Homo sapiens: one gene and its partner. The protein of the gene in region 2 purifies or fractionates together with the protein of the main gene of each other region. This does not show direct contact. Each region holds a gene or a part of one and is shown on either strand. Other genes may lie near its edges.

Region 1 (3,500 bases), on a different chromosome or scaffold from region 2:
GGCCATGAGGATCAATATTTCCTTACAGAGGGCTGAAAGAATTCCAGGGATTGACATCCAGGTGCTGGGGAAGACCCCCCTAGAATCTCCCTACCCCATCCCCCCTGTGAGGGCAGCTTGGCCAATTTACCCACTGCTCCTGGCTCTTTACCAGCCTCCTGGGGCAATGATAACTCAAATGCAGCATAGCCACGTTCTAGGCAGTGTGCTGAGGATTATCTTATTTCATTCCCATTGAAACCCCCTAAGGGATACATCCAGATGAGGGCTTAGGGCCACGGAGAGGATGGGAGACTTGTCTGAGGTCCCACAGCTGGGGAGTGCGGAGGCCTTGTCTGAACTGGTGCGTGTTCCCTATAAGTGGCAAGAGTGCAAGGCTTCTGGAGCTTCTCAACACTCAGAGAGGCCCAGAACCCGAGGGAGCTGTCCAGAGGGCTGCTAATGGGGAAAATGTCGGTCTTGCCATCTTCTTTCTTCCTCCCCTGGGGGTGGCCCAGGTCATCTTTCTCCGAGGGATTGCCTTTGGCAGAGTGAGACCTGGGTCCCTCCATCTCTGTTAGTAAATTACTGGAGGGGCAGAGAGATGATGGCTTTACTCCAGAAGGCCTTAACACAAGTCACTGACCCCTGTGTGTGATGACACTAGGACAGCAGACAGTAGCCCAAGGCATCAGCTTCTGGGGCCTCCTGGCCCTGAGGTCTGTGTTAGAGGCTTGAGGGCAGGTCCCCAGAGCCCAGGACAAAGGCAGCTGTCAGGGTGGAGCCCAGGCGAAGCTGCATACTCTTCTGATGTGTGTGGGTTCGTGGAGATGTGGGTGTAGGGGTGTTGGGGTGTCTAAAGCCGGCTATGGGAAGCCATGTCATACTTGGCTACCTTCCTATGTTCCTTCTCACAGCAAAACTCTTGGACTGATCATTTGAAGTCACCCCTCTGTGTCTTCTTGTGAAATGGCTTGGGCGTCTCTGGGCTCTGACTTGCTCATCTGGGAAGAGATGGGGTAGAGGGAGTTGGATTATAAATCATGCTTCACTCAGTCAACAGAATGCTACTCAGGCACTAAAAATGATGGCGTAGCCCTACGTATTCTGACATGGGAAGATGGCCACAATATCTTATTATGTGGAAAAAACTAGTTGCATAGGATTTATGGTTTGATTACATTTTAGTAAAATAAATTCATTTATGGTGGTATATGCAAAGAAAAAATAATGCCGGGCGCAGTGGCTCACGCCTGTAATCCCAGCACTTTGGGAGGCTGAGGCAGGTGGATCACTTGAGGCCAGGAGGTTGAGACCAGCCTGGCCAACATGGTAAAACCCCATTTCCATTAAAAATACAAAAATTAGCACCAAGCGTGGTGGCACGTGCCTGTAGTCCCAGCTACTCAGGAGGCTGAGATGGGAGACTTGCTTGAACCTGGAAGGTGGAGGTTGCGGTGAGCCAAGATCACGCCACTGCACTCCGGCCTGGGCTACAGCCAGACTCTGTCTCAAAAAAAAAAAAAAAAAAAAAAGAGAAAAAGAAAAAGAAAAGAAAAAATCGAGATGTAGACACACTAAAGTGTGAACAGATTTTCTCAGGGGTTGATGTACTCACAAAAACATCTTGGCCAAGCATTGAAGCTCATGCCTGTAATCCCAGCACTTTGGGAGACCAAGGTGGGCAGATCACCTGACGTCAGGAGTTTGAGAACAGCCTGACCAACATGGCAAAACCCCATCTGTATTAAAAATACAAAAAAAAAAAAAAAAAAAAAGCCAGGCGTGGTGGCGTGTACCTGTAGTCCCAGCTACTCGAGAGGCTGAGGCAGGAGAACTGCTTGAACCTGGGAGGCAGAGGTTGCAGTGAACCAAGATCACAGCACTGTACTCCAGCCTGGGCGACAAAGTGAGACCGAAAAAAAAAAAAAAATTTCTGTATCAGCTGTTAAGATTGTGACTCCAAGTCCTAGAAAAGTGAAAACAAGTTTGCACCTGTTTCATCAAACTCAAGGATATTATTTGATGGAATTGTCCCTTAAAATAAAGCTGCCACTGTCAGAAGTTGGTGTTTAGGCGCATTCCATTCCCAGTGGTCTGTGCTAACAGAAATGCAACCTTGGCAGTGATTTACATGCCTGGGTTTGAGTGGGCCGGGTGGTTTTCTGTGGCAGATTAAGGTCCCTCATTGTGCTTGATTTTCAGTTCCACCTATACATGTTGTCAGGACACTGTGCTGACCCTGGGGGCTGAGGGACACACATTGGCTGGGGCAGGAGAACTGGGCTTGGTGGGGATAAGAACAGAATTTATGGCCGGGCACGGTGGCTCACGCCTGTAATCCCAGCACTTTGGGAGGCCGAGGCGGGCAGATCACGAGGTCAGGAGATCGAGACCATCCTGGCTAACATGGTGAAACCCTGTCTCTACTAAAAATACAAAAAAAAATTAGCCGGGTGTGGTGGCGGGCGCCTGTAGTCCCAGCTACTCGGGAGGCTGAGGCAGGAGAATGGTGTGAACCCGGGAAGCGGAGTTTGCAGTGAACCGAGATCGTGCCGCTGCACTCCAGCCTGGGTGACAGAGCGAGACTCCGTCTCAAAAAAAAAAAAAAAAAAACAACCAGAATTTATGATGTATATGGTTTCTCAAGACAACTTTGAGAAAAAACTTCTAGAATTTTTAAAAATATGTAAGGACACTGAGTGTTCCATAAGAACAAACGTGTCTGTGATATAAATAAAACATGTCGGCCTGACATTGGGGTAAGGAAAATGAACTCCAGGGGTTGACAATGGCCTTGCATCTCTCTTTTGGGCTGGTGCTTCTCAGGGGAATGGACTGAGTTTTAGGGCCTGACATGAGTTTTCCAAGAGTGGGAACTGGGCCTCCCCTATTAGCCCGAGGCTCTGCAAGGATGAAACCCTGTTTCCTCTCTCAGGCTGGAAGCTCCCGGTGACACTGGAGGGTCCCGCTTCTCATCACTGCTGTCCCCGGGGTTCGATGGAGCTCTGCACAAGATTCCTGCCCTGGTGGTGGGACCACGATGTTGGGGCAGTGATGTGGGAAGATGAGAACAGGGACTAGAGATCAGAGAGGCAGGACATCTTTAAAGAGCCCCTCCTGCCTCACTCAGGTCTTCAGGGGTCTTTGGCAGTATGTGTAATGGTAGAGACCAGTGACTTGAGGGCCATATGTCCCAGATTCAAATCCTGGCTCCTCCACTAACTCAGCGTCTATACCTCACTTTTCCCATCTGCAACATGGGCATACTAGCACATACCTTACAGTATTGTCATGAGTTGGCCCACATAGAGCACTTAGGATGGCACCTGGGTCGGAGGAATCCCTTGCTAACTGGTGGCTGTCCTGTGCTAGTAAAGAACTGTGGGGATTTCATTACTGAAGCCGGGGAGAAAGCATGAGGAAGAAGCAAGCCTCCCTTGCCCGTGGTAGGGGTCGCGGTTCCCTGCCCTCATTTCTTAGTAGCCCTTGGCCGCCACCCTGAGCTCATGTTTTGTTAG
Region 2 (3,500 bases):
GAGAGAGAAAAAAAAACTGCATTAGATTAACCCAGGTGGATTTGTTGTCCACGTGCCCACATAGATAAGGCTGCAACAATTTATAGAGGAACACTGTTCTAAGTCTGAACTGACAACTATACAGGCTAGTATTCTTTTCATACTTTTTGCTTTATTTCCCTCTATAAATACCTCCTTTTTAAAAGTTTAATTTAAAATAGTTCTTGAAAGACCTTCTGCAGATAAATGAAAAGAGTAACATAATGTCATTGTTATGAGCTCAGGCCCTGGAGTCAGGCCTCCTGGATTTATATTCACTCCTCCCACTTCCTCACCAAGTTACCTAGCTGTTCTGTGCCTCAGTTTCCTCATGTGCAAAATGGGTATAATTACAGAATCTCCCTCAAAGTGTTGTTGGGAAAATTTAATGAGATGATACTACAAAAGCACTCTGCTTCCCACCAAGTGAGGGTTCTTCCAGGCAGACAAGCAGTGAGGGTAACTGTTTATATTATGTTGTATAAAGCATCTAAAACAATCCTTTGAATTTGCATTTCCTGTACTTTATAATTCAAGGGAAATTTTCACATTATTAGGTATAAATCACTTTGCTTCAAATAATATGCAAGGCAACCTATCTTTCTCTACAATTAGGTTATATTATTTATAAATAGAAGGGAATTTAAAACGACGTTGCTTGCTTTTAGCTGAGGAATAGATCTCTTTCTGGGAGGTTCTGGCGGGTTTCAACACTTGCTTTGTGTTTGAGGCAAGGGTGATGATGTGGAACCCTGTCCTTGTGCAGAATAGAACTGCTTGCTTCTTCAGTGCCTCCATCCATTCAGTCGGCTGAGACATGTTGGTCACATCATTGCATTTGCTTGGGGTTCACAAGCAGGTGGGATCAGCTGCATTAACCCCAGGCAGTCAACAATGTTGTATTTCCACTAGCTTGGAGGAGTAATTAACCTGATTGGTTGCATTAATTTCAAGAGGTAAGTCTATTGTTGATTTTAAAGAAACTAAGTTAAAAATGCAGCAGCTGATGACATAACAACTATACCATGGTTTTGTTTAATTTCTGACACTAAACATGTATACAAACAAACATGAGTGTGGTATCCACTTAAACACAGAGCCCATCTTTGGAACAGCAGTCTGTCCACAATGAACTGGGTGCCGGCATGAGGGGAACCTTCCTTGTTTTCCATTAGCATCTCCAAGGACCCAGAGGATTTGAGTAACATAGCAGAATTTGCTCAACAAATAATGTTCTATATTTAACATTTAAAAGGACCCTTTGTTCCTGAATATATCTCTCCTTCTGTTTGCCAGTGAGCTCTAGGAATTAAATCACAAAATTAAACCCACCTTTCTTCCTAATTAATTTATTTTTATTTTTGATCAGTTCCGTAGAACTAGAGTGAGAAGAAATAACCATCCTTTCCATGTGTGGATATTCTAGGAAATATTCAGCATTTGAGATCCTACAACCATTTGACCACCATTTTTCAGTCTCTCTCCTTTTTGACCCAAGGGATAATGGAACACTTGCTATTTGCATCAGCAGAGGACAGAAGAAGGAAAAGGCCTGACCTTTGCCCTCTGGCCCTTAAAGGCTTTTGCAAGAAAACCAGCATGGTGTGAGGCAGGAGGAACCATCTGAAAAAAGGGCCATCCTTTGTCCCGGGCCCTTCTCACTCTGCAAAGATCAAGAGCACTGGCCTCTGATTATGTGACCCAAGCAGCTGGTGCTGCAGGCCTGCCTTCTGCATGGCTGCTCTACATGCCTGAGGACACCACTTCAGAACATCGTTCAGTTCATTATAAGTCCGAACTGAGAACAGTATAAGCTATGTCTGTTGTAGGTTTTCTTTTAATAATCTGAGGCATGCATCCTGTGGATATAATGTTTATTTCTAAACTTTCTCCATGTTTGTCTTTCTTCCTCCTTCTTTCCCATTTCTGTGTTTTGAGCTTTCCTGTCGCCGTCTTTCTGCTTTTTATCTACTTCCTTTGTCTCTTGTCCTTTCCTCTTTCCGGAGCACCCTGGCTTGTCTGATTTCTCCTCAAAATAATCTGGACAGTCCTGAGATCCCTCAGCCCCTTGGCTCCCCTCCCCAACCCCCCAACCTCCAGCTTTCCTACTACAGGAATTTACTTTCTTGGCTCGCCAGCTCCTTGACCTGTCTTGGTACCATCTAAGAGTTCATTCCCCTCAAAAATCTGAAAAACAGCCTTTCGGCAGCCCTGTGATGAAACCTATCCAAGTGAGGAGGTGTCATTTTGCATAAGCCCAAGGAACTTTTGTGGAACCTTATAAAACGCTGCATTTCCCTCAAACAGGCCTATTTCCTCCACTGGGCTAAAATCAGGCTCTGCTAATTTTCTCTTGTGTTCCTTTCTGGTGCCACTTTCTGATTCAGGAAATTCGGGTCATTACAGAATCAGACTCAAATCCTACATATTGGACTGTGTGGCGCAGATCATTAGTTATGAAGTGTTTTGATTTTCTTCTTTTTTAAAAAAATATTTCCCCCCTCACGAATGACTGTGAATGTAGCAAACTGACACACACACACAAATGGATTTCCCACTCTTTGGGGTTGTTTCTTGTAGTGCTTAGTTTTACAGTCATGCTTTTTTGATGATGTTGCCACGGCAGTGAATGAATCTGAATGTATTGACTATCTTGTCCGTAGGTGAATGTCCTATACTCCATAATTCCCAGCCAGTAAGCCAGCTTCCTTCCCTGAGGCCTGAACATCATCACTACCCAACAATCGATGAGCCTCTTCCACCAAGTAAGCTTTAGTTTTTAAAATCTGTGTCTTAACTCTTCCTATCAAGTCTAAGCAGGTCAGTATGAATTTGTGTGTAAACATCTAAAGTCTTTCCCGACTCCGTGCCTTACAGTGTTAACAAAGACCAATATGACACCTGCTCTAAAAACTGGTGGTTTTTTGGGGGTTTTTAGTTTGTTTTTTTGACTAATAGTTTCACCATGTGATCTTGAAGAGATAACACAGTGTTTTCAGTGCCTCTCAACTTCTGAAATGGAGAGCATTTCTCTGTTAGACTTGACTAGTCTTTGCAAACTGTTCATGACCTTTAAGTCCCAAATTTTACATTTTATATTTAAAATTTGCAGTTCAAGATAGAATAATCCTATTGTTCTCCATTGGATCTGTTACGTCACAAGCATCTCCATATGTTAAAACAACTTCAACCCATCTGGGCACATGAACTTGTACTTTCCTTACTATAACTTCCATCCATAGGGAATAGCTTCAAATTTCTTCTGCAGTTCTTAGGGGTTGCCAGGCAAAATATCATCTTTAAGATAGAATTCAATGTCAGTTTCTCCTGGTAACTGTAGTGGGTAATTAATAATTATCTAACTAGTCATCTGAACTTGGGAAATTCATTTAATCTCTCAGGGACTTAGTTTTCTCATTTGTAAAATTTAAAAAATAAAGTTTAAATGTCTCCATCTGCTCAATGAAAGATTTGACCTAGAT

The links.
Region 1: the proteins of HECW1 (region 2) and CUEDC1 purify together in Homo sapiens (co-immunoprecipitation; one large-scale study listed by IntAct). This does not show direct contact.

The regions. Positions count from the first base shown.
Region 1 is NC_000017.11:57,885,913-57,889,412, reverse strand, and holds part of CUEDC1 (CUE domain-containing protein 1), read left to right. Parts: intron 1-3,500.
Region 2 is NC_000007.14:43,448,147-43,451,646, forward strand, and holds part of HECW1 (E3 ubiquitin-protein ligase HECW1), read left to right. Parts: intron 1-2,681; coding exon 2,682-2,783; intron 2,784-3,500. UniProt on the Homo sapiens protein: E3 ubiquitin-protein ligase that mediates ubiquitination and subsequent degradation of DVL1. Also targets the mutant SOD1 protein involved in familial amyotrophic lateral sclerosis (FALS).